Linked DNA regions of Homo sapiens. The protein of the gene in region 1 purifies or fractionates together with the protein of each later gene. This does not show direct contact. Each region holds a gene or a part of one and is shown in the gene's direction. Other genes may lie near its edges.

Region 1 (3,500 bases):
CAGCAAGGAAACTCAGCTGAGAACAGGGGCCTCCTCCACCTTGTGCCCTTCTCCACTTGGAGTCTTCATGGCTAGAGGGGTCCAGGTGCACCTCTGAGGTTCTCCCTCCACTGCTTTCCTGGGTGGCTCCGAGGTGTGGTTAAATTGGGGGTGGGCACCCATGTCCCAGATGAAGACCCTGAGACCTCAAGAACTGGTAATACCCCTGGCGAGGGTCCCTCCCTGCTGTAGCCTGGGGTGGTCTGCGAGTCCCTTAGAGATGAGGCTTCCTCTCTCCCCATCTCTGGCCTTTGGAGAAAAATGAAGCCTCCAACAGTGACAGAAGGTGGCAGTGATGTAGAAAAAAATTTGGCCTAGGAATGGGAGTCCCGGGTTGTGATGCAAGCTGCTCTCCAGACCATTCCCTCTCCCCCTGTGTCTGTGCAGGGAGAGGGTGGACGAGGCGTGCTGGGGTTCCCTTGGCTCCAGTCTGCAAGAGCTGAGCTCCCACCAGGCACTTAGCAGCTGGTTATCCCTTCTGCTGCCGCCCCCGCCCCTTCCCCTCGCCCCCGCCGCCGGCCACCCGCCCGAAATAGAAAAGGAAAGGAAGTTATTTCCATAGTCAGCGGCAGCCCGGAAAAGCTCCCCTCCAGTGAGGGGGCGGGCGGGATTCCTAGAGCTGAAGACCAAATCAAAGCCAGGCCCGAGAGCTAGAGCAGCCCCCACCGCCCGGCCCTCGGCTGCCTTCTCAGTGTGCCGTTTTCCTGATTCAGCGGAACACGTGTCCTGCGGTTGCCACGCTGCAGGCTGCCATGGAGCTGTGGGGACCTCCTGGCCGGGCTCCGAGCTGCCCTCAGGCCCAGGGCGGTAGGGCGGGAGCCTGGGGGTCAGGGAGGGTGTGTGCCACCCCCTCTTCCTCTACTGCCTTGCCCAGCTGTTGGCTCTGCCATGGCACAGAGCTCCTGCCACACACACAACGGGCCTGGAAAGAGCGGCCCCAGAGCACCCTGAGAGCGAGATCCCTTCCACACTCACATCTCCACGCACGTTTTCAGAACATTGCTCAGGACACGGCCTCCTGAGGGGCTCCCCAGCACCTGGGCAGGGAGGCAGCAGTTTCTAGATAAGGAAACCGAGCCCTAGAGGGAACAGGGGCCCACCTAAGACTACCCTGCCGGCTGGTGGTTGAGCCAGAACTGGAGCTCAGATCTGCTTTACCCTCTGTAGGGATCCTGGCGTCCCCATATGCCCCTTCCTCAGCAAACCAGCATGCAGCAGGCTGTGCTGTTGGTGGCTTATGTGTCTGTTCCTTTGGACCATACCTGTCACTCAGCACCATGAGCCTGGCACTGTGTAGGTGCTAGGATAGAAGCATGAAAGGATGCGATCCCTGCTGTCTTTAGGGGACATTTGTAAACATCTATGGCTAAATCCACAGAGTTCCACATGTGCACCGTGGACAGACAGCTCTGTAGGTCCAGAGACCTGGAAGGGCACTGAGTGACTGGAGAGCATGAATGGCTGGGGAGTTCGCTGAGGCTGGTGGAGACATCTCCAGTGATGAGACAGAGTGACGGGCCTTTGTTCTGGAGGCAGTGGAGGCCATGGGAATCTCTGAGCAGGATCCGACCTGCCTGAGGACCTGGTGTGATGGGGCCAGGAGACCTGGGGTTGGGCTTAATGACTTCCTCTTCCCTGTCACCTGCCATCCCCTAGTATCGACGCGCTGGGCTCTGGAGCCCCTACAAGCCAGAGACGCTATCGGAACTGGAACCCACCACTGCTGGGCAACCTTCCGGATGACTTTCTCCGCATCCTGCCCCAGCAGCTGGACAGCATACAGGTAACAGGGGCCGCCCCCGCCTTCCACTCCCACCTGCTTGTCCAGCATCTCTCTTTGCCCACACAATTTGTGCCAGCCAGTTTTACTTCCTGATGTTTAAACCCAGGCTGAGCTATTTCTGTTGCCCTGGGTTCGTAGGGCAGGAATGCTGAACTGAAAGCCTCACTTCCTGCCTGGGCCTGGAGGTTTCCTGTTCTATCCAGGGAAGGTGACAGCCTAAGGAGGCTGTCTGCTGCAGCAGTCACCTCAGGCTGGAGAGAGGCGGGCATGGGGTGGCCAATGGTGGAGGGCCAGAGCACCCCCCTTCCTCCCTTGGGAAAGGGCCAGAGGCTGCTTCTTGCTAGATGTTGGCATGCCCCAAGGTGCCCCACAGCGGGGCAGGTCCACCCTGAGGCTGCTGGTGCAGGGAGAGGGTTGAGTTTGGGAATTGACGTATAGGCTGTTCCACAGTCTGCAGATTTGTTTTCAGGACTGTTCAGGTTGTAGATGAAGGTATGAGGTGGTCTGTGGCGTGGGGGAAAAATAGTTTTTAGGCTACTGCTGTGTCCCCTGCAGCAATGGCTCTGACCTGTCCGTTGGATTTTGGCTCGCAACCAGGTTCCATTAGGAGGTGTGAGCCTCAGGTGAGGGCTGGAGGATGTTGGACAGGGCATGTGTGCAACCAGAGGGATGTGGACGTTTGTGCAACATGTACCCTTGTGTGTACACATTCAACATGCTCGCTTCCCTCCTCAGGGTAACGCTGGGGGCCCCAAGCCTGGGAGTGGAGAGGGATGTCCACCTGCCATGGCTGGGCCAGGGCCCGGAGACCAGGAGAGCCGCTGGAAGCAGTACCTGGAGGACGAGAGGATCGCGCTTTTCCTGCAGAACGAGGAGTTCATGAAGGAGCTGCAACGGAACCGCGACTTCCTCCTCGCTCTGGAGAGAGGTGGGCAGCGCCTGCAGCCACTTCTCCCTGGCTGAAGAAGGGAGGTGATGCTGGCTTTAGCCTTGGGGCTCAGGAAAACACTGAGCTGGGGGCTGAGGGGGCCAGGTGCTTTCTGTCCTATTGAGGCATGACTCCCACCAAGTTATCCCATGGGAGCCTCAGAATTCTGCCTATGGGGACCTGGGTCACTAGCCCACCCCTTTCTCCCTCGGGACTCAGAGGAAGAAGGATGTGCACTCTTAGGCCTTCTTCCCTTTGCACACCTGCTCTGTGCCAGGCACTGGCCTTGGCACAAGGCAGCAGGGAGAAGAGCACTGCCCCTCCTCACAGAGCCCCAGCCCCAAGGCAGGCGTGATGTGTCTGGAGCTCCGGAAACAGAACGACTGGGTTCATGAAGGCCAGGGCGGGGGAGGCTCTTGAGTGGAAGACTTTAGAGCAGGGGCTCTGGAACTTTGCAGGTATTTGGGTTGTCTCTGGGTTGGAGACCCTGCTCCCTAGCCTGGCTGCCTTTCCCCTGCAGGGTGGGAGTGCGTTTGGGGTAGAGGAGACGAGAGGGCTGTGGAGCTCTGTCCCTGTGACGGCCACAGCGTGAGAGCTTGTGTGTGTAACTGATGGTGTGTTGGTGGGGGAGGAGCAAGTTGTGGAGGGAGAAGGCTGGGCTGAGGCCCAAGGTTAGCCCCAGCTCTGCAGCAAAGGTGCTAGAAGCCTCAAGGCTTTTCCGTTTATTTTTTATTTTTTGAGACATAGTCT
Region 2 (3,500 bases), on another chromosome or scaffold:
TGTCATTGAAGGATCCTAAGAAAGGAGGACCACGATCTCCCTTATATGGTGAATGTGTTGTTAAGAAGTTAGATGAGAGGTGAGGAGACCAGTTAGAAAGCCAATAAGCATTTCCAGATGAGAGATAATGGTTCTTGAAATCCAATAGTGCCCAGGTCTAAATTGAGATGGGTGAATGAGGAAAATAAGGAAGAGAGAAGAGGCAAGATGGTGCCTAGGTTTGTGATGCCTCTTTCCTGGGTCTCTTGTCTCCACAGGAGGAGCCATGGGGCACTACGTCTTAGCTGAACGTGAGTGACACGCAGCCTGCAGACTCACTGTGGGAAGGAGACAAAACTAGAGACTCAAAGAGGGAGTGCATTTATGAGCTCTTCATGTTTCAGGAGAGAGTTGAACCTAAACATAGAAATTGCCTGACGAACTCCTTGATTTTAGCCTTCTCTGTTCATTTCCTCAAAAAGATTTCCCCATTTAGGTTTCTGAGTTCCTGCATGCCGGTGATCCCTAGCTGTGACCTCTCCCCTGGAACTGTCTCTCATGAACCTCAAGCTGCATCTAGAGGCTTCCTTCATTTCCTCCGTCACCTCAGAGACATACACCTATGTCATTTCATTTCCTATTTTTGGAAGAGGACTCCTTAAATTTGGGGGACTTACATGATTCATTTTAACATCTGAGAAAAGCTTTGAACCCTGGGACGTGGCTAGTCATAACCTTACCAGATTTTTACACATGTATCTATGCATTTTCTGGACCCGTTCAACTTTTCCTTTGAATCCTCTCTCTGTGTTACCCAGTAACTCATCTGTCACCAAGCCTTGGGGATTCTTCCATCTGATTGTGATGTGAGTTGCACAGCTATGAAGGCTGTACACTGCACGAATGGAAGAGGCACCTGTCCCAGAAAAAGCATCATGGCTATCTGTGGGTAGTATGATGGGTGTTTTTAGCAGGTAGGAGGCAAATATCTTGAAAGGGGTTGTGAAGAGGTGTTTTTTCTAATTGGCATGAAGGTGTCATACAGATTTGCAAAGTTTAATGGTGCCTTCATTTGGGATGCTACTCTAGTATTCCAGACCTGAAGAATCACAATAATTTTCTACCTGGTCTCTCCTTGTTCTGATAATGAAAATTATGATAAGGATGATAAAAGCACTTACTTCGTGTCCGACTCTTCTGAGCACCTACTTACATGCATTACTGCATGCACTTCTTACAATAATTCTATGAGATAGGTACTATTATCCCCATTTCTTTTTTAAATGAAGAAAGTGAAGTAGGCCGGGCACGGTGGCTCACGCCTGTAATCCCAGCACTTTGGGAGGCCAAAGCGGGTGGATCACGAGGTCAGGAGATCGAGACCATCCTGGCTAACATGGTGAAACCCCATCTCTAATAAAAATACAAAAAATTAGCTGGGCGTGGTGGCAGACGCCTGTAGTCCCAGCTACTCGGAAGGCTGAGGCAGGAGAATGGCATGAACCCAGGAGGCAGAGCTTGCAGTGAGCCGAGTTTGCGCCACTGCACTCCAGCCTAGGTGACAGAGTGAGACTCCATCTCAAAAAAATAAAAATAAAAATAAAAAAATGAAAAAAAAAAGAAAGTGAAGTATAGAGTATCTCATAGTTTGTCAGTGATAGAAACAGGTTTCAAACTCAGTCAATCTGACCGTTTGATACATCTCAGACACCACTACATTCAGTAGTTTAGATGCCTAGAATAAATAGAGAAGGAAGGAGATGGCTCTTCTCTTGTCTCATTGTGTTTCTTCTGAGTGAGCTTGAATCACATGAAGGGGAACAGCAGAAAACAACCAACTGATCCTCAGCTGTCATGTTTCCTTTAAAAGTCCCTGAAGGAAGGTCCTGGAATGTGACTCCCTTGCTCCTCTGTTGCTCTCTTTGGCATTCATTTCTTTGGACCCTACGCAAGGACTGTAATTGGTGGGGACAGCTAGTGGCCCTGCTGGGCTTCACACACGGTGTCCTCCCTAGGCCAGTGCCTCTGGAGTCAGAACTCTGGTGGTATTTCCCTCAATGAAGTGGAGTAAGCTCTCTCATTTTGAGATGGTATAATGGAAGCCACCAAGTGGCTTAGAGGATGCCCAGGTCCTTCCATGGAGCCACTGGGGTTCCGGTGCACATTAAAAAAAAAATCTAACCAGGACATTCAGGAATTGCTAGATTCTGGGAAATCAGTTCACCATGTTCAAAAGAGTCTTTTTTTTTTTTTTGAGACTCTATTGCCCAGGCTGGAGTGCAATGGCATGATCTCGGCTCACTGTAACCTCTGCCTCCCAGGTTCAAGCGATTCTCCTGTCTCAGCCTCCCAAGTAGCTGGGATTACAGGCGTGCACCACCATGCCCGGCTAATTTTTGTATTTTTAGTAGAGACAGGGTTTCACCATGTTGGCCAGGCTGGTCTCGAACTCTCCTGACCTCGTGATCCGCCTGCCTCGGCCTCCCAAAGTGCTGAGATTACAGGTGTGAGCCACCCTGCCCAGCCGTCAAAAGAGTCTTAATATATATATCCAGATGGCATGTGTTTACTTTATGTTACTACATGCACTTGGCTGCATAAATGTGGTACAAGCATTCTGTCTTGAAGGGCAGGTGCTTCAGGATACCATATACAGCTCAGAAGTTTCTTCTTTAGGCATTAAATTTTAGCAAAGATATCTCATCTCTTCTTTTAAACCATTTTCTTTTTTTGTGGTTAGAAAAGTTATGTAGAAAAAAGTAAATGTGATTTACGCTCATTGTAGAAAAGCTATAAAATGAATACAATTAAAGCTGTTATTTAATTAGCCAGTGAAAAACTATTAACAACTTGTCTATTACCTGTTAGTATTATTGTTGCATTAAAAATGCATATACTTTAATAAATGTATATTGTATTGTATACTGCATGATTTTATTGAAGTTCTTGTTCATCTTGTGTATATACTTAATCGCTTTGTCATTTTGGAGACATTTATTTTGCTTCTAATTTCTTTACATTTTGTCTTACGGAATATTTTCATTCAACTGTGGTAGCCGAATTAATCGTGTTTCTTCACTCTAGGGACATTGTCGTCTAAGTTGTAAGACATTGGTTATTTTACCAGCAAACCATTCTGAAAGCATATGACAAATTATTTCTCTCTTAATATCTTACTATACTGAAAGCAGACTGCTATAAGGCTTCACTTACTCTTCTACCTCATAAGGAATATGTTACAATTAATTTATTAGGTAAGCATTTGTTTTATATTGGTTTTATTTCACCTGGGCTGAGATTTCAAGAAACACCCCAGTCTTCACAGTAACACATTTCACTAACACATTTACTAAACATCAGCAACTGTGGCCTGTTAATTTTTTTAATAGAAATTTTAAGTCCTCATTTTCTTTCGGTGTTTTTTAAGCTTAATTTTTCTGGCTTTATTCATAAATTCTTAAGGTCAACTACATTTGAAAAATCAAAGACCTGCATTTTAAATTCTTATTCACCTCTGGCAA
Region 3 (3,500 bases), on another chromosome or scaffold:
CCAGGTTAATTACCACATTAAGTTAAATGCAGTATCCATAATAGTAATGTCACTCATTAATGATTGTGTCATTTTGAATAGGCCTTAATTAGTAATTACAGATTTTTGTGGTGGTTTATCGTGTTTTGTAATATGTTAGAGTACACTGGATTTGCTGAACTCTGGTAATTTAGAACTCTGAGCCATACAAAGAGAAGTTCTGTACTCTAAAAAGTATTTAATCTAACTGTATGCATAACTCCAATATTTTGCCTGAACAGATTTAGTCATTGTGGAAGTCCCGATTTCTGTCCTGTGGGCATGATTATTTGCATTACAAAAGGCTTCACCAAAATTTTTCATTGGGGAATAGGTGCATTTCAATATGATTTTGTATTCATAATGTTCAAGGAAAGGAAATGCTTTATTGAATCTAATTGATTTTTGCTTCTTGTTTTTTTTTTTCCCCTATTATTCTTCAGGTTTTTTTGCCCACCTCCTTGTGTATATCTTATGGGCAGTGGATGGAAGAAAAAAAAAGAACAAATGGAACGCGATGGTTGTTCTGAACAAGAGTCTCAACCGTGTGCATTTATTGGGATAGGAAATAGTGACCAAGAAATGCAGCAGCTAAACTTGGAAGGAAAGGTAAATCAAGACTGCTAGTTCACCAGAAAGGGGCACCATGGTACCAGAATGTAGTTTTCATATTCATTTTTGTGGTGGAGATTTTTTTCTTTAATAACTATTGGTAACAATTTCTTGAATATATAAACTAGGACCAAAAAACATGCCTCTCATAGCTTTGGTCTAGTCACTCATGAAGCTTACGCTGCTGACATTGGAAGGTGGCATGCAGTAAGCTTCCCCAGCTTGCAAGCAGTTTTAGCAGACTATAAATCAGATTTCTATTGGAAGCCAGTAATAAATTTAGGAGGCTGATTGCTCATCTTCTGTTTGACAGAGGTTTATCAACAAAAATACATTGTTCAGTAATGTTTTACTCTGCTATTTTAATCTTAGTTTTATACTAGACACGATGATATATACATTGTGGAAAGCATTTATCTGGGTTATAACGATCATAAACGTTTACTTGACATCAGAGTGAAGCAGAGTGATACTGTAGACAAGAACAGCCACAGTTGGCTTTACTCAAATTTTAGTGCGTGGCAGGGGTTCTTCAATTAATTTTCTAGAGAAAACAATCTATCAGCTAGTTTTACTGATTATATTGTATGAATTTAGAAAGCAGTCAATCTAGATCTTTTTTTTTCTTCCCCCGGGACAGGGTTTTTACTCTGTCACCCATGCAGAAATGCAATAGTGCAATCTTGGCTGACTGCAACCTCCACCTCACAAGTAGCGGGACCATAGGTGTGTGTCACTATGTCCAGCTAACTTTTTTGTATTTTTTTGTAGAGATGGGGTTTCGCCATGTTACCTAGGCTGGTCTTGAACTCCTGAGCTCAAGCAATCCATCCACCTCAGCCTCCCAAAGTGCTGGGATTACGGGTGTGTGCCACCGTGTCCAGCCAATCTATACTTTTAGTATTGAAAGATAGTTTTTTATTCACTTAGAATTTAGCTATGGTTTTATTTTTCCTTGCTACTGTACTTTGGAAAATGGTTAGTTCTGATCTCAATGACTAAACATCTTCTAAAATAGCGCATAAACAGCTGTTTCATTATTTGATACATCCTTGTTGAATATTTTAGTGTTTGCTATGTTGTAGTTGGCACTAGGTATATGGGTTGGGAGTAGTGTTGGTGGAGGTGAGCTAGGGGATTTGTACTCTCAAATTGAATTTTAGTGATTTTACAGATAGTACTACAGGTCTTAATGTCAACCTCCTTCAAATTTAGCTGTTTGTATGTCATTTATATCTTTATAGTTTTTGTAAGTAAGATTTGTTGACTATGTATTTTAAATTAGATTTGGGATAATACTTATTACAATAAAGATTGTTTCATCTTAAACCACTAAAACTATTTCTAAATTATGATCCCTGAGCTAAAGTAACGAATATATTTAAGTGGTGGGTTGATCTAATAGATCTTAAGTCTTGTCTCATCTGTTTTCTTGTTACCTAGGAAGTCTCAGAGTTATATGTCTCCAGGCTTCACATGTAGACATTCAGTACTATGAATGAGTGGATCAGATAGGTAGTGAGAAGCCAGGGATTCTAGCTACCTGTGTGTATAACTGTTTAATCCTACTTCATTGCTCATTTTAACCAGTTCCAGCTTCCAGTAATTTTAAATGAGGTGATACCAAATAAACCAACCAGTAGTATCACTGCTTGCCTTTCGCAGCATTGTGGCTTAGTAGTGCCACATCCTAATTTTGTACCTTTAGGGGCTGCCTCAACATGGAGATCTTTCTGCTGTTTTTCATTATATCTTTCTTCAACTTCCACTAGTATACCCTTTCCCCAAGGCCTAGAAACTGGCAGAAGAGGAATAGAATACCTGAGAGCTTGAGCATTTAACTAGTATTTAAAATACCTAGTAATAGGTTAGTACAATGTCTGTAAGCCAAAATTATATGTTAATATTTAATTTTAAGGAAAAATTCTATTAGGGAAGTTTATGTAAAGCAAGACTGGTGAGAGTTAGTAGAAGGCATCCCAGGCAGAAAAAAAAACAATATAATCATGTGCTTAGAGCATAAAGGTATAAGAACATGGTTTTGACCAAGGTAGGCAAAGATGTCCTGAGCAGCGGATTCTGAGCTTCAGTGAGAGGCACTTTGCTCTTGTCTGCCTCACTTAAACTCCATTCGTGTAAGGAAATAGTCTGTTCATTGAGTGGTACAATTAGTTATTGAGAAATATGGGATATTCATTTTGCAATTTTTGGTGTTTATACTTATTTTAAATATTCACTGCAACAAAATTCTAGTATATCTAGCCCTTTAAATTTATGGTCATGACATTTGGCTGTATGTAGGTAATATGTTGGATCTTAGATTTTGTGTAATGTTTTTAATTTGTTAAAAAAATTTACATTTTTTATAGTCACAGCTAGGTAAGCTACGCAACAAGGATGACTTAGTTAACACTCTTGTGTTTTTCTTATTTTTAAACATCATATACTCTTGGTAACATTTTGTTTCTATAATTTAAACATTTCTGCAGTATCACTTTGCAGCATTAGATTTGGTATTTCTTCTTTCTTTCAGGGAAATGTCTTTTATTGCCTAAAGATCTTGTTTTCAAAGAGTATTTCTAGAGAGATGATTATATGCCATTTTCTCTTCTAGAATTCCGTTAGCTAATTTAACCTTTTGCAATAGCAAGGCAAATGTAATTTTAGTTTTATTTGCTTATTTTCTATGAGTCAGTGACTTTTTCCTTCTTTTCTTAATGGAATTTGAGTAGTTTGTGGTCAGTGGCCTTATAGTTTTTTAAAACTAATAGTTCCCATAAAATTATCTTGATTATGATTTTTGTGGATTCAAACTACTCATTGTAATTAGGGATATATTTCCTTTCTTTCCAAGGAGATATATGTGTGTT
Region 4 (3,500 bases), on another chromosome or scaffold:
TTAACAATACTGAATCTTCCCATTGAGAGATATTTTATGTCTGTATTCATTCTTTTTAGTAATGTTTTTTAAAGTGTTTTCTTCACGCTGGTTGTGCAGTGGCTTACGCCTGTAATCCCAGCATTTTGGGAGGCCCAGGCTGGGGAATCACTTGAGGTCAGGAGTTCGAGTCCAGCCTGGGCAACATAATGAAATCCTAAAAATGCAAAAAAATTTAGCCGGGTGTGGTGACGCATGCCTATAATCCCTGCTACTTGGGAGGCTGGGGCAGGAGAATTGCTTGAACCTGGGGTGCTGAGGTTTCAGTGAGCTGAGATCGCGCTACTGCACTCCAACCTGGGTGACAGAGCAAGACTCTGTCTCAAAAAAAAAAAAATTTTTTTTCTTCGGATAGGTCTTGAAGTAATCTTGTTGTTGATCTTGTGTCTGTTCATTTTGCTGAAATGTTTTAGCTCCAATTAATTGGTTCTAATGGGGTTTTTAAAAAAATTTTCTTGTGTATTCTAAATAAATAATCTATTTGTCATTTTCACTACAAATGAGTTTTACCATATTCTTTCCAATGTTGTTATGACTTTTCTTAATGGATTGTCAAATATAATCAATACTGAATTGGCTTGGTAATTGTGATCTTCCTTGTTTTGTTGCTGATTTTAATTTATTCTTTTTCTTTTTCTTTCTTTTTTTTTTTTTTTTTTTTTTCTTCAGACGGAGTCTTGCTCTTTTGCCCAGGTTGGAGTACAGTGGCGTGATCCTGGCTCACTGCAACCTCTACCTCCCGGATTCAAGCAATACTTCTGCCTCAGCCTCCTGAGTAGCTGGGATTACAGGCACACAACCACCACACCCAGCTAATTTTCCTATTTTTTGGTAGAGACAGGGTTTCACCGTGTTGGTCAGGGTGGTCTCAAACTCCTGACCTCGTGATCCACCCGCCTCGGCCTCCCAAAGTGCTGGGATTACAGGCGTGAGCCACTGTGCCCAGCCCTGATTTTACTTTATTCTTGATCTTAATAGAAGTTCTTACAATAGGCTGGGCACAGTGGCTCATGCCTGTAATCCCAGAACTTTGGGAGGCCAAGTTGGGTGGATCATTTGAGGTCAGGAGTTCAAGACTGGCCTGGCCAACAAGGTGAAAGCCCATCTCTACCAAAAAATAGGAAAACTAACCAGGCGTGGTGGCGGGTGCCTGTAATCCCGGCTACTGGGGGGCTGAGGAAGGAGAACCGTTTGAACCCGGGAGGTGGAGGTTGCAGTGAGCTGTGATTGTGCCACTGCACTCCAGTCTGGGCCACAGAGCGAGACACCTTCTCAAAAAAAAAAGTTCTTAAAATGTTTTACAATTATTGTATATTAATGACTGTAGGTTTGTGATAGATAATCTAGATTACTTCTTAATTTTTCATGATTCTTCTTATCAGGCATTTTACCAAGATTTTCTTGAATGCTTTTGGTTTGTTTTGAAAATAATCATATGACGTTTATCCTTTAATCTGCTAACAGTAGATTTTCTAATGTAGTTTCCTAATATCAAATCATCCTTGAATTTATACATGATGTTAGTCTATAGTCTTCTTGTTCTGTTGTTGTTCAGTTTCAGCTTTGAAAGTTTACATTACCTTCCCAGAATAAGTTAGGACACTCCTTTTCACTTTTTCTCCCCTAATGTGTTATAACACCTTAAATAACATAAGAATGATCTATCCAATAAAGGCTTCATAGAATTTTCTCAAAAACCTTTCTGAGCCTGGAGCCTTTAGGAGGGATGATATTAGAACTTTCATCACCTTTTCCATTGCTGCTCTGATTTGTCTTTTTTTCTTTCCCTTGAGTTAGTTTAGCTAATTTCAAACTCATTGATATGAAATTGTACGTGGTATTTCTAATGTTATTTATATTAAACATGTTTTCTTTATAACACTTGGAAAGGTATATTTCATGGTTTCTCCAGCTTTCCTGAGTAAAAAAATCATATGCATTTGTTAAAAATGCAGATCCCCAGGTTCTTCCCTAGAGATTTCCCCTAGAGATTCAGTAAGTCTAGGATGAGGACTTAGATACTATATTTTCAGTAAGTTCTGGAGTCTTATCAGGTGCATTAGGAAATTCTGATCTTTTTTTTGGGTCTTTTGACCAAAATTCATTTTCTTCTACTTACTTTTTTTTTTTTTTTCTGTATCTGGAATGAATTCTAAGCTCTTTTGTTACCATTCTTTCTTACATCTTTAGGTACTTCTTTGGCCATGTCCAGTAGCATTTAATCTGAGTGTTTTCTTTTTGTCATTAATTCTCCTAAAATTTGTGATTATGTCTCCCTCTGCCATTTCCATTAGAACTTTGATATATGGTCTTCCAGTAGGTTTTGTTCTGTAATCTATTCACCCTTACAGTTTTAATTTGACTCATTTTTATAGTGACACGTAGTCGAACTAGATCAATCACACTTAAAATGAAAATTAGGAAAACTGTGTCACTGGATTGCAGTACTGGGTTATTTCTTGAAAAAGTGTAGAATGGGTTCTTGCAACCCCTATAGTACTATCTTAAGAACTGATGCCATCATACAGTTCCTACTATTGGCAAAACAGTTCGTTTGATGTTAGCTACCACTTACACAAGGGAAGGGCGATTGAAAGGGATCATTTTTCAGAGTTTAGATGGCCCATACAGACTTCCTCTCAGAATTGATGATTTGGAGGGAAAACACTGGTTATCTTAATGCTGGTTCCTCTCTCCTTAAGGTTGTTATTATTATACATACTTAAATTTTTATCATTTACATATTCATCCCTGAAATTTTGAGCAACAAAAATAAAATCTCCATTTTATTTTATGTTACATATTTTGAAAATATTACTTTGTCTGCTGTTTGGAGAATGGATTGTAGTTGCTTAGTCTGGATTAGGCTCTGAATAAGTGTAGTCAATTGATTAGGTAATTGATTGCTTTATCATTACTTGATAGATGATTTTATTAATTTTCCCTTCTCAGTTAATGGAGAATCATCCTCATTTGCACCAACTGATAATGCGTCTGTCACGGGTACTCCAGTAGTGTCTGAAGAAAATGCCTTGTCTCCAAATTGCACTAGTACTACTGTTGAAGATCCTCCAGTTCAAGAAATACTGACTTCCTCAGAAAACAATGAATGTATTCCTTCTACCAGTGCAGAATTGGAATCTGAAGCTAGAAGTATATTAGAGCCTGACACCTCTAATTCTAGAAGTAGTTCTGCTTTTGAAGCAGCCAAATCAAGACAGCCAGATGGGTGTATGGATCCTGTACGGCAGCAGTCTGGGAATGCCAACACAGAAACCTTGCCATCAGGGTATGTTAAGCTTTTTAATGTCTGACTTGCATTTAAGTAGCAACTCTGTTAACATACGATTATTGAATGTGTGCATAAAATGTTTTCATTGTTCAGAACTTTGAAATCTAAGTTGGGATCTGAATCATACTATTTATTTACTTGCTACAAAACAAGTACTTTTTGAAACTAA
Region 5 (3,500 bases), on another chromosome or scaffold:
GTGTGAGCTGCCATGCCTGGCTAATTTTTTGTAGAAATGCCCAGGTTGGTCTCAAACTTCTGGTCTCAAGCAATCTTCCTGCTCCCACCTCCCAAAGTCCTGGGATTACCGGTGTGAGCCACCATGCCTAGCAGGAATTCTTTATGTAGGTGGATGAATATATTCCTGGGATTAGCAAACATTTTCTATATTGGGCACAGATAATAGTGGCTTATTGGCTTTTGCCACAACTATCTAACTCTCATTGCAGAATGAAAGCAGCCATAGATAATACATAAATGAATGGGTGTGGCTGTGTTCCAATAAAACTTAATTTACAAAAACAGGTGGCTCCAATGTGTAATATCCTGGGATATCATTTTTTCTAGGCTTTGTCCACATGGCTTAGGGGAGCATAGGGCTCTGCCCCATGATGTACAGTCCCTTTCCTCAGTGTTGGAGATGAAGCTGGGTCTGGTGTTTGCACTTTCATATTCCTGTAGCTTCTCAGAATCCTGTGGACAGTGACTGGGGAGACAAACCATGCAGGAAATATGTCTAGTAAAAAAGAATAAAACAAACAAAAAACAAGTGGCAAACTGAATTTGGCAACTGTAGTATATGCTGTAGGCCAGGTTGTATATGACTTTACTGAGAATAGCATCTGTTCAACTATGAAATGAATGAAATTTAAATTATTCATGTCTGTACATGACTGCTAATGAATAAAAACTTACTGCTAAGTCAATTGATTAATGTAAAAAGTAGTCAGCTTGAAAAAATGGTAGACTGAGATTGCTAAATTTTAATTTACAATTGTTTTACCTTTGGCTAACTAGCCACTTTGCTGCCCTTTGAAAACGCTTAGATTAATGTTTCTCACCTGTGACTGCACAAGATGTTCATCTGTGGAGCTTTGAAAAATTACTCATGCCTCACTCTCACCTCTAGAGATTTAGTATGGTGAACAGCCTGGACATCAGATTTTTTTTTCTCTTTTTTTTCCTCTGTACAACAGATTTTAAAAGATCTCCCCAGCAGGTTCTAATGAGCAGCCAAGTTTGAAAGCCACCGACTTTCAATTCATTGTTATGGTGTAGGTTTGGTATGGAATTTCAGGGTATGACAATTAAGGCCATTTTAAACTTATAAAATTTGGGGGGCAGCTTTATCACTTCACTGGTTTTTGTCATTAGTTATATTTGAGGCTACTTCTTTTCTTTTCTTTTTGCTTTGTAAAGCTTCAGCATGTGCCAGGAGTGGTGGCTTATGCCTGTAATCCCAACACCTTGAGAGGCTCATGTGGGAGGATCACTTGAGCACAGGAGTTCAAGACCAGCATGGGCAACATACTGAGACCCCCATCTCTACAAAAAAAGAACTTTGCCGGGCAAGGTGGCTCACGCCTGTAATCCCAGCACTGTGGGAGGCTGAGGTGGGCAGATCACGAGGTCAGGAGTCTGAGACCAGCCTGGCCAACGTGGTGAAACCCCGTCTCTACTAAAAATACAAAAATTAGCTGGGCATGGTGGTGGGTGCCTGTAATCCCAGTTACTTGGGAGGCTGAGGCAGGAGAATCGCTTGAAACCGGAAAGTGGAGGTTGCAGTGAGCTGAGATCGCGCTATTGTACTCCAGCCTGAGTGAAAGAGCGAAACTTGGTCTCAAAAAAAAGAAAAAAAAATTCCAGCATGCTTATTTTGTTTTCCAACTAGATTTGAGTATGTCTTTCCTTACTATAATGTGGCCAGTGTTTCTTGCCTGTATTTTTGTTTTTTATATTTTTGGAGATAGAGTCTCGCTCTGTCACCCTGGCTGGAGTGCAGTGGCATGATCATAGCTCACTGGAGCCTTGAACTCCTGGGCTCAAGCCATTCTTCTGCCTCAGCCTCCTGAGTACCTAGGACTATAGGTGCACACCGCCGTGCCCGGCTAATTTTTAAAATTTTTTGTAGGGACAAGGTCTCTATATGTTGCCCAGGTTGGTGTTGAACTCCTGGCCTCTGCTGATCCTCCCGCCTCAGCCTCCCAAAGTGCTAGGGTTACAGACATGAGCCAGCATGCCCAGCCTTTGCCTATATTTTTGTAGTTATCACAGAAAGTGCTCTTTTATTGGTATTTGTTGGATGTGGTCTCTGCTTCTGTTTGCTTAGCATTTGGTGTAAGTATTACTATTAGATGGGATAATTAATTGAAGAACTAATGAAAATTTCTTTAAACTTAAAGGATTCTGAAGGTGATACCCCTCTTCATGATGCAATAAGTAAGAAACGTGATGATATCCTAGCAGTTCTTTTGGAAGCTGGAGCAGATGTTACCATCACAAACAATAATGGATTTAATGCTCTGCATCATGCTGCACTAAGGGGAAATCCCAGGTATGTCACCCCTTACTATTTTAGGTGCAATTCAAAAATATTTTCCTACTGTTGATTCTCTTTTTCTGATACTGATGAAGAAATAATTTTGGCTATTTTAGTATTTTAAATCATTTTAAAGTTTTGTGAATATTATGCCTTTAGTTTTATATGATGATTATTTGGTTGTTAATCTAATACAAATATTATGAAATGATTATTTAAGTTTATATTAAATGTGGTTGTAAAATATCAGGAATACTAGTTTCTTTCTAAAGATTTAATTAAAATGCATTTTATTTTGAGATTTATGTTTCTTCAAAATAATTATCTGGGTGTCCTCTAATTTCATGTTGCCATTTGCACGATAATTATTTTTTAAAACTTAAGACTAAATAAATACTAAGTTACCTAATTCCTTATTAATAATGTAATTAGTTATATAAACTTCTAGTATAGCTATCCCCTCATCCATTGTTACAGCAATAGTATTCTACTGAAAAAAGTATTTGCTGGTTGACATTTGAGAAAGACTCCTTTTGGAGAATCACATTCTTTATGAAGGATCTGCGGTGTCCCACAGAATGGGAAAATGCTTAGCTTTGCTTAATTTAGAGATTTCCATTAACTCACTTTTTGGAACAACTTTACCCTAAGCATTTTAGGAAATTCTGCATTGGATGTCTTCTGTTTATGTTTGAGTCAAACCTGTATACCTGGACTAAGAAAAATCTTCACTTTGATTTTTATTTTGATAATTTTATCTATTCTGAACACTTATTCTTTGGTTCCTTATTGTATTTTTATATCATGTTTCCTTTAGCTTCTTAGGATCACCACTAGAGGGTGACCACAGGAAACAAAAGGATTTTATTGCTACTGCTTATTGGTAACTGTAACAGTGGGTATATATTGTAGGACAAAATGAATGATCATATTTTAGATCACATCTTGATTTTTTTTCCAAATTGCAAATATTTGAACACTTCAGATTTTGGCATTGTGAAGAAGACAGTAGTATTATATTTCCCTGCCCTTCAAACAGAAGATTATGATAGCACTTTCCACATGCCAGCCTCTGCAAAGTGCTTCACATGCATCATCTCACTTAATCCTTTCAACAGCTTTTTGGGGCAGGTGTTAATATCCTCATTTTACACGTGAAG
Region 6 (3,500 bases), on another chromosome or scaffold:
TGGGAGGCTGAGGCAGGAGGATCACTTTAGTCCAGGAGTTCAAGACCAGCCTGGGCAACATACTGAGACTCTCACTGCAAAAAATATAAATTAGCTGGGCATGGTGACACACACCTGTAGTCCCAGCTGCTTGGGAATCTGAGGTGGGAGAATTGCTTGAGCCCAGGAGGTCAGTGCTTCAGTGAGCTGTTACTGTGCTACCGCACTCCAGCCTGGGCGATAGAGGAAGACTCTCTCAAAAAAAAAAAAAAAACCAGAGTCATAAGAATGTGTACCTATTTAACACAATTGTGTGTTAATTGGGTTTAAGAAAATCCTCATTGCAGTTTTATTTGGAGGCAGGATGTAACAGATGAAACAGATAAAGAATGATAATAAGATAGCTTATAACAGTGTTTTACCACAGTCTTCACTGAAAGCCCGTGAAAGCATTTCACACATGAGGCAACAAAGGTACAGAAAGGGTAAGATTCTTGACTGAGATTATACAGCAGGTATGTGCCAACACAAAATATAAAAAGTAAACTTGCATTTTCCACAGACTTAGAGCAGTAGAAAATTAAGGAAGAGGTTAATATAAGCTGGAATCATTAAGAAAAACTTCATTCTTGGTGGTGGTAGTGGAAGGAACTGTGATAGGAAAGGAAATACACTTGCTACAAAAGGTATTAAGCCTATTTGTAGCAGTGGTTTCTCCCCCTCCTACCACCAATCCCAAATATGATAATACACAGGTTCAGAAGGGGACATTACAGGTTCTTGAGTAGGGGCCTAAAGTGATACTGTGTTTAAAGAAATGAGTGTGGCAATGTCATGAATAATAAATTGGGGAGGAGGGATAGGGTGGAGCAGAAGATCTTTGAGTAGCAAGACCTTTTGCAATAATTCAGATACAAAAAATGAAAGTCTATTCCACCACGGTAAATGGACTTGAAGGAACAGAGCTCCAGTATATTTTCCAGAAAGTGCTGGAAAATTTAGTAAATGATTAAATATTAAAGAGAAGGAATCAAAGGTCACTGATAGTGTTTTTGAGTCTGGCCAGGAAGGTGATGGTTCTTTCCAGAAAGTGGGAAGTTAAGCAGGTTTACATTAATCTTTTGGTTTGAGGCTTATTAAAAAAAATTTTTTTTAGTGTGTAATATATTAGCCCAGTTAAAAATTCAAAAGGTATTTATTGAAGTCTCTTTCCCACGCCAGATTCTGTCCGTACAGTTTCCCTTGCTAGAGGCCACTGACATCACCAGTTTCTTATATATCTTGCTGGAGGTATGCATATGTAAGCAAATATGCATACAATTGTATGTATTTTTTCCCTTTTATTGGTATAACTGGTAGCATACTGTATACTGTTTTGTGCTTTGCTTTTTTTTTCTTTTCCATCCGGGCTTTGAAGTTACATACAGTAAAATAAATGGAAAGAGTTTTTTTGTTTTTTTTGTTTTTTTTTTTTTTGAGACACAGTCTTGCTTTGTTGCCGAGGCTGGAGTGCAGTGGCGTGATCATGGCTTACTGCAGCTTTAACTTCCTGCGCTCAGGCTCCCACCTCAGCCTCCTGAGTAGCTGGGACTGTAGGTGTGCACACCATGCCTGGCTAATTTTTTGTAGATATGGGATTATGCCATGTTGCTCAGGCTGGTCTTGAACTCCTGAGCTCAAGCAGCCCACCTATCTTGGCCTTCCAAAGTGCTGGGAATACAGACATGAGTCGTCACACCCAGCCCATGAAAAGGTCTTAAAATGAACATCTGGGAATAGAGATAGGGTGAGACTTTCCGGCAGGAGATTCTAATTTAAGAATCATAAAAGGCCTAGCATGCCAGTAGTAGTCCCAGCTTTTCGGGGCTGAGGCAGGAGGATCACTTGAGACCAGGAGTTTGAGGCTATAGTTCGTGATGATCACACCTGTGAATAGCCAACTGCACTCCAGCCTTTTAAAAAAAAAAATCAGATGAATTATGAATTTTTAGCTACAAGGTAACCTCCTTTGAGGTAATAGCTATAAATTGAGAAAAGAACAGAGCTCAAGACTGAGTCTTGTTGATCTGACCACATATATTCATTCATCCAGAAATACCTCATCGAGTGCTGCTTCTGGCTGGTCACTATCTTTTCGTTTGGAATTTTTTTGGAGGCAGGGCGGTGGTTTTGAGATGAGACTGTCTCCCAGCCAAAAGCACGGTGGCATGATTAAGTCTCACGCAGCCTTGACCTCCTAGGTGCGATCCTCCCACCTCAGCCTTCTGAGTAGCTGGGACTGCAGGCGCATACCACCATACCTGGCTAATTTTTTTAATGTTTAGTAGAGATGAGGTCTCACTATGATGCCCAGGCTGGTTTCAAACTCCTGCGCTTAACAATTCTCCCTCTTTGGGCTCCAAAAGTGCTGGGATTACAGGCATGAGCCTCCATATCCAGCCAAGTTGGGATTTTTAAAGTAAGCTTTTGAAGAGTTTATGCAAAGTGATGACATGATCCAAAATACTTAATAGTATCAATCTGTGGAATTGAAGAGAAGCAATAAGTGGGAAACTCATTGGGAGATTGCTGCATAGTCCAAGCAAAAGATAATGTTGGATTGGATTGAGGTGATAGAGATGGACAGAGATGGATGGATTTTGTGATCTTTATTGAAGGTAGAATTGACAGGGCATGTGATGGATCAGTTATTGGTAATCAGGAAGAAGAAAGATCAGTAACCGTTGACTGTTTCCCAGGGTCAGTCCTCAGCATTGGAAAAGAACTCTAAATATAAACCCCATTTAGTTTCTGGTATTTTGACAAGATCAGAGAAAAGAATTTAAAGTTAAGAATGAGGGGCTGGGTGCAGTGGCTCCCACCTGTAATCCCAGCACTTTGGGAGCCCAAGGCTGGCAGATCACCTGAGGTCGGGGGTTCAAGACCAGCCTGGCCAACATGGTGAAACCCTGTCTCTACTAAAAATACAAAAATTAATCCGGTGTGGTGGCACACGCCTGTAATCCCAGCTACTCAGGAGGCTGAGGCAGGAGAATCACTTGAACCCAGAGGTGGAGGTTGCAGTGAGCCAAGATTGCACCACTGCATTCCAACCTGGGCAACAGAGTGAGACTCTGTATCAAAAAAAAGAAGAGCAAAAGAAAGTGATGATGAAAAGGTGCTCAGTTACCTTAATTCAGATTTCGTTGTTTACCTGGACCTTCTCTTTCAATGTTTACCTGGACCAAACATTGATTGTAGCCAAAATGGAAAAGGCATTGGATGGCTGGATAAAGGGTTTTGGATTTCATTCTGTTAGTAATATCCATTGACCTGACTGTAGATAGTACTATCTATAGATCTAGTCACCAGAAGGACCAAGGCATGGTTAGAAGATTGCGGCTTTGAACCCCATCCGCCATCCTCCAGAAGGGGAGAGGGGCTGAGGGTTTATTAATCACCAGTCGCCAGTGATTTACTTAATTATACCTGTTTAATGAAGCCTCCATAAAAGCCCATTAGGACTGGGTTTGGAGAGCTCC
Region 7 (3,500 bases), on another chromosome or scaffold:
GAGGTGAAGGTAAATGGGTAGACTCGAGAAATACTTAGACAAGAGGATTACAGGACTTGACTGGGGACGGTAAGGGAGAAGGGCGACTCCTAGGTTTTCGTGTTGCACAACTAGCTAGTTAAGCAACTCTGGAGGCAGATCAGGTTTGTGCAGGAAGAGCAGGGGTTCAGTTTGGGCATGTTGGGACTGAGATAACTTTCAGATACTCAAGAGATACACGATAAGCAGGTCAGAGGAGAAGTCTGGGCTGGAGACACAAATTTGCAAGTCATTCATATGTAGTGAGAATTAGAGCTGCTGTGGTGGAGGCAACATAGAGCTGAGGAATGAATGTAGACTGAGAGGAGAAGAGGGCCTAGAATTGAGCCTCCAGAAACTCCACTTCTCAAAGGCAGGCCAAGGAGTAAAAGCCTGCCAGGGAGGCGCTGTAATGCTAGGAGAAAAAACCCAGAGAGCAGATTGCTTGGAAGTCAAGTGAAGGATGGCTCAGGAGGGAGGGTGTGGGCGAGAGAACCAGGTCTGCTGAAAGGTCAGGTAAGGTGCAGGCTGACAAAGGCCTATTAGATTTAGAAAAGTGGAGATCACTGGGCCTTGACGAGAGGAGCCTTTGAGGATTAATGAGAGAAGAATCCATATTGGAGCAGACTGAGGCAAGAAATGGGAGGAGAGGAAATGACCACAAATAATAGAGCCGACTCTCCAGAGAAGCCTGGATTTGCAGAGGGAAGAGTGAGGGCAGGAGGCAGATGTGGGGTTGGGGTTGCAGGAGAGCTCTCAACTTGTGAAAAGCAGTTGAGGAAGAGGGTAATCAGTCATATACAGTTCCTGGAAGATGGGATCCAGGGCCCTGTGGAGGGATCAGCCCCACAGGCAGAAGAGGCAGAAGCAGGGAGGAAGAGAGGTGGGTGCCGCAGTAGGCAAGATCTGTCTGGTTTGGGAGGATGAGGGGTTCCATTTTCCCCGTAAAGTAGGAGGCAAAGACATTGCCTGGATTAGTGAACATTGGAAATGTTGGAGGAGAGTGAGGGAATAGATTAGGGAAGAGGTGCGGGAGACCAGCTGGTAAACTGAAGGCCCACCTGAAGTTGGGGATTGTGAATTCATGGTAGATCCAGTCTGCCCAGGCAACTCTTTTCTCCCTCCTTCCAAGGCCACATAAGCTCAATAATTGTTTCCAAGCTATCCTCCTCAATTGCCCGAAACAATGTCTGACAGCACTTCTCCCTTCCACAGACTGTGCTCTTTTGGACCTGCGAGAAATATCCCCACTTTAAAGACTGGCAGGTCTTCAGCAAAGCATTTCTGCGCCTGGTGAGGAAACTGCACAAGTGCGTGAGCCAGCACTTCCTGAAACACTATTTCGTCCGGAACAGCAACCTCTTTCAGTGCACCAACCCGACTGAACTGGACACTGTGGCCCAAAAGCTGGCCACCTTCCTGAAGAACCCCCAGATCGGCCCGCCCTGATGGTTGCCCCGGCCTGGGAGGCTCTTGGACATTTTATTCTGGCTTAACATTGTTCTTTGGATGGTTCCTCAGTCAGGTGCCAGGATCCTGCCTAGGAGAAAGGCCACGAATGGCAGCGGAAATTACATCAAACCAGAAACACTTCAGCAGGGGGAAAACTGTGCCCCAGGATGTCTGGCCCAGGCCTCCCTGGAGCCCAGCAAGCATTTCTGCCCTAGCTAATTCTCCTGGAGACAGCTCTCATCAGGCTTCCCCAGGCACAGATTTGGAACTGGTGACAGTTCTGAACTTAGTTTCCCTTGTTCAGGCTGTGATCGTCTCACAGTGAAGATGGAGACAGAACCCCTGGAAGTCTGGACATGAGCCTGCTGGCCAATACTGTGCCCAGCCCACTGATCATGGGCACATTCTCCTGCCATTTGTAAAATGGGAATGTTAACGTGCCTACCTCTGAGCAGGGCTGTGTGCCTATGAAACTGTGCTGGCGCCTTTTCAAGGGGAAGGCATTGGATCAACACAAAGTGTTCCTGGTTGGTTGAGTAGCTGGTGTTTGCATCCTGGATCGGTACCCACAGCACTGACGCAAAATTGCACCTGATGAGTTAGTGAGCCTGTGCTTCCTTGCTGCCCTCCAGCTTCCTTAGCATGTGGGTCAGTGGCTCCTGATGTTCTGTCTGCTTCGCTGGTATTCTCTAAGCAGGGAGGGGAATGGTTTTGATGATAAGTGTAAGTCAAAGATGAAAGTACAACTCTTGGCCTGATCCCAACCATAGCCCTCTCTTTGCTTCCCATGCCATGGGCCATGGATGGAACTTCCTTATATATTTATGTAAATAACCTAGTACTATGATCTGCATGGAGTGACCTTAGGTGTCTGTCACTGCTCAGTGTGTTCCTTTGCTCACTTCATTCACTCACTCACTCATTGACAAATAATGCTCATTAGGCACCGGGAACACAGCAAAGAGCAAAGTGGATGAGGACCTCCCCCTGGGGATGCCACCTAATGGTGGAGACAAGAAATGAACGACAGATAAACACGCACAGTTATTACAGATGGAAGCAAGTGCTTCAAAGGAAATAAACAGAATGTTGAAGTAGAGTCCACAGAAAGGTCCCCGAAGGATGAAAATGCAAATAGCTGAAGGGGAAGGAAAAGTGACCAAAGGCAGGCATGGTGGGGCTGGCATGAGTCAGAGCACCTGGCCTTGTAAAGCCAGGAAGGAATCAGTATTTTATTCTAAGATCAAAGGTGTGACATTTGGCCTCTCCAGAAGCAGAAGAGTATCACGATCTGACTGCATTTTAAACAATTGTTCTGGTAACTGCATGAAGAAGGTCTGGGGACTCACACAGGAGCTGGGCACTGAGTGCTCTTGAGCCACCCATTTGGAATTTCACAGAGGCCCACAAGGCAACATATTCTGTGTGGCACAACCGATCAGGAATTCTAGGAGTTCTCGGTGAGATCAATGGTTTTTTTCTGGCGTTTATGTAATGCTTCTCAACTCAAGGGGCTCCTTTATTACTTTTGAATGTTTTTGCCCAAATGTCTATACCAAAGATAAATTTCTAAAGCATGAACTACTGATTTTGTTTTCATGAAAATTCACATTTGAAAATGAAAATGATTACTTTTCAAAAGTACTGTAAACGGCAGGAAAGATCCAAAATTGACACCCTAACATCACAATTAAAAGAACTAGAAAAGCAAGAGCAAACACATTCAAAAGCTAGCAGAAGGCAAGAAATAACTAAAATCAGAGCAGAACTGAAGGAAATAGAGACACAAAAAACCCTTCAAAAAATTAATAGATCCAGGAGCTGGTTTTTTGAAAGGATCAACAAAATTGATAGACTGCTAGCAAGACTAATAAAGAAAAAAAGAGAGAAGAATCAAATAGATGCAATAAAAAATGATAAAGGGGATATCACCACCGATCCCACAGAAATACAAACTACCATCAGAGAATACTACAAACTCCTCTACGCAAATAAACTAGAAAATCTAGAAGAAATGGATAAATTCCTCA

What was found.
Region 2: the proteins of CUEDC1 (region 1) and HFE purify together in Homo sapiens (co-immunoprecipitation; one large-scale study listed by IntAct). This does not show direct contact.
Region 3: the proteins of CUEDC1 (region 1) and RBPJ purify together in Homo sapiens (affinity purification with mass spectrometry; one large-scale study listed by BioGRID and IntAct). This does not show direct contact.
Region 4: the proteins of CUEDC1 (region 1) and WWP1 purify together in Homo sapiens (co-immunoprecipitation; 2 studies listed by BioGRID and IntAct, with this or other methods). This does not show direct contact.
Region 5: the proteins of CUEDC1 (region 1) and MIB1 purify together in Homo sapiens (co-immunoprecipitation; one large-scale study listed by IntAct). This does not show direct contact.
Region 6: the proteins of CUEDC1 (region 1) and PPP4R3B purify together in Homo sapiens (affinity purification with mass spectrometry; one large-scale study listed by BioGRID and IntAct). This does not show direct contact.
Region 7: the proteins of CUEDC1 (region 1) and MAB21L3 purify together in Homo sapiens (co-immunoprecipitation; one large-scale study listed by IntAct). This does not show direct contact.

Annotation. Positions count from the first base shown.
Region 1 is NC_000017.11:57,871,913-57,875,412, reverse strand, and holds part of CUEDC1 (CUE domain-containing protein 1), read left to right. Parts: intron 1-1,695; coding exon 1,696-1,822; intron 1,823-2,557; coding exon 2,558-2,750; intron 2,751-3,500.
Region 2 is NC_000006.12:26,093,929-26,097,428, forward strand, and holds part of HFE (hereditary hemochromatosis protein isoform 1 precursor), read left to right. Parts: intron 1-257; coding exon 258-298; 3' UTR 299-475; coding exon of another isoform or gene 476-483; 3' UTR 484-3,500. UniProt on the Homo sapiens protein: Binds to transferrin receptor (TFR) and reduces its affinity for iron-loaded transferrin.
Region 3 is NC_000004.12:26,415,014-26,418,513, forward strand, and holds part of RBPJ (recombining binding protein suppressor of hairless), read left to right. Parts: intron 1-461; coding exon 462-627; intron 628-3,500. UniProt on the Homo sapiens protein: Transcriptional regulator that plays a central role in Notch signaling, a signaling pathway involved in cell-cell communication that regulates a broad spectrum of cell-fate determinations.
Region 4 is NC_000008.11:86,408,547-86,412,046, forward strand, and holds part of WWP1 (NEDD4-like E3 ubiquitin-protein ligase WWP1), read left to right. Parts: intron 1-2,991; coding exon 2,992-3,328; intron 3,329-3,500. UniProt on the Homo sapiens protein: E3 ubiquitin-protein ligase which accepts ubiquitin from an E2 ubiquitin-conjugating enzyme in the form of a thioester and then directly transfers the ubiquitin to targeted substrates.
Region 5 is NC_000018.10:21,817,292-21,820,791, forward strand, and holds part of MIB1 (E3 ubiquitin-protein ligase MIB1), read left to right. Parts: intron 1-332; exon of another isoform or gene 333-537; intron 538-2,203; coding exon 2,204-2,355; intron 2,356-3,500. UniProt on the Homo sapiens protein: E3 ubiquitin-protein ligase that mediates ubiquitination of Delta receptors, which act as ligands of Notch proteins.
Region 6 is NC_000002.12:55,607,623-55,611,122, reverse strand, and holds part of PPP4R3B (serine/threonine-protein phosphatase 4 regulatory subunit 3B), read left to right. Parts: intron 1-3,500. UniProt on the Homo sapiens protein: Regulatory subunit of serine/threonine-protein phosphatase 4 (PP4). May regulate the activity of PPP4C at centrosomal microtubule organizing centers.
Region 7 is NC_000001.11:116,131,899-116,135,398, forward strand, and holds part of MAB21L3 (protein mab-21-like 3), read left to right. Parts: intron 1-1,233; coding exon 1,234-1,467; 3' UTR 1,468-3,500.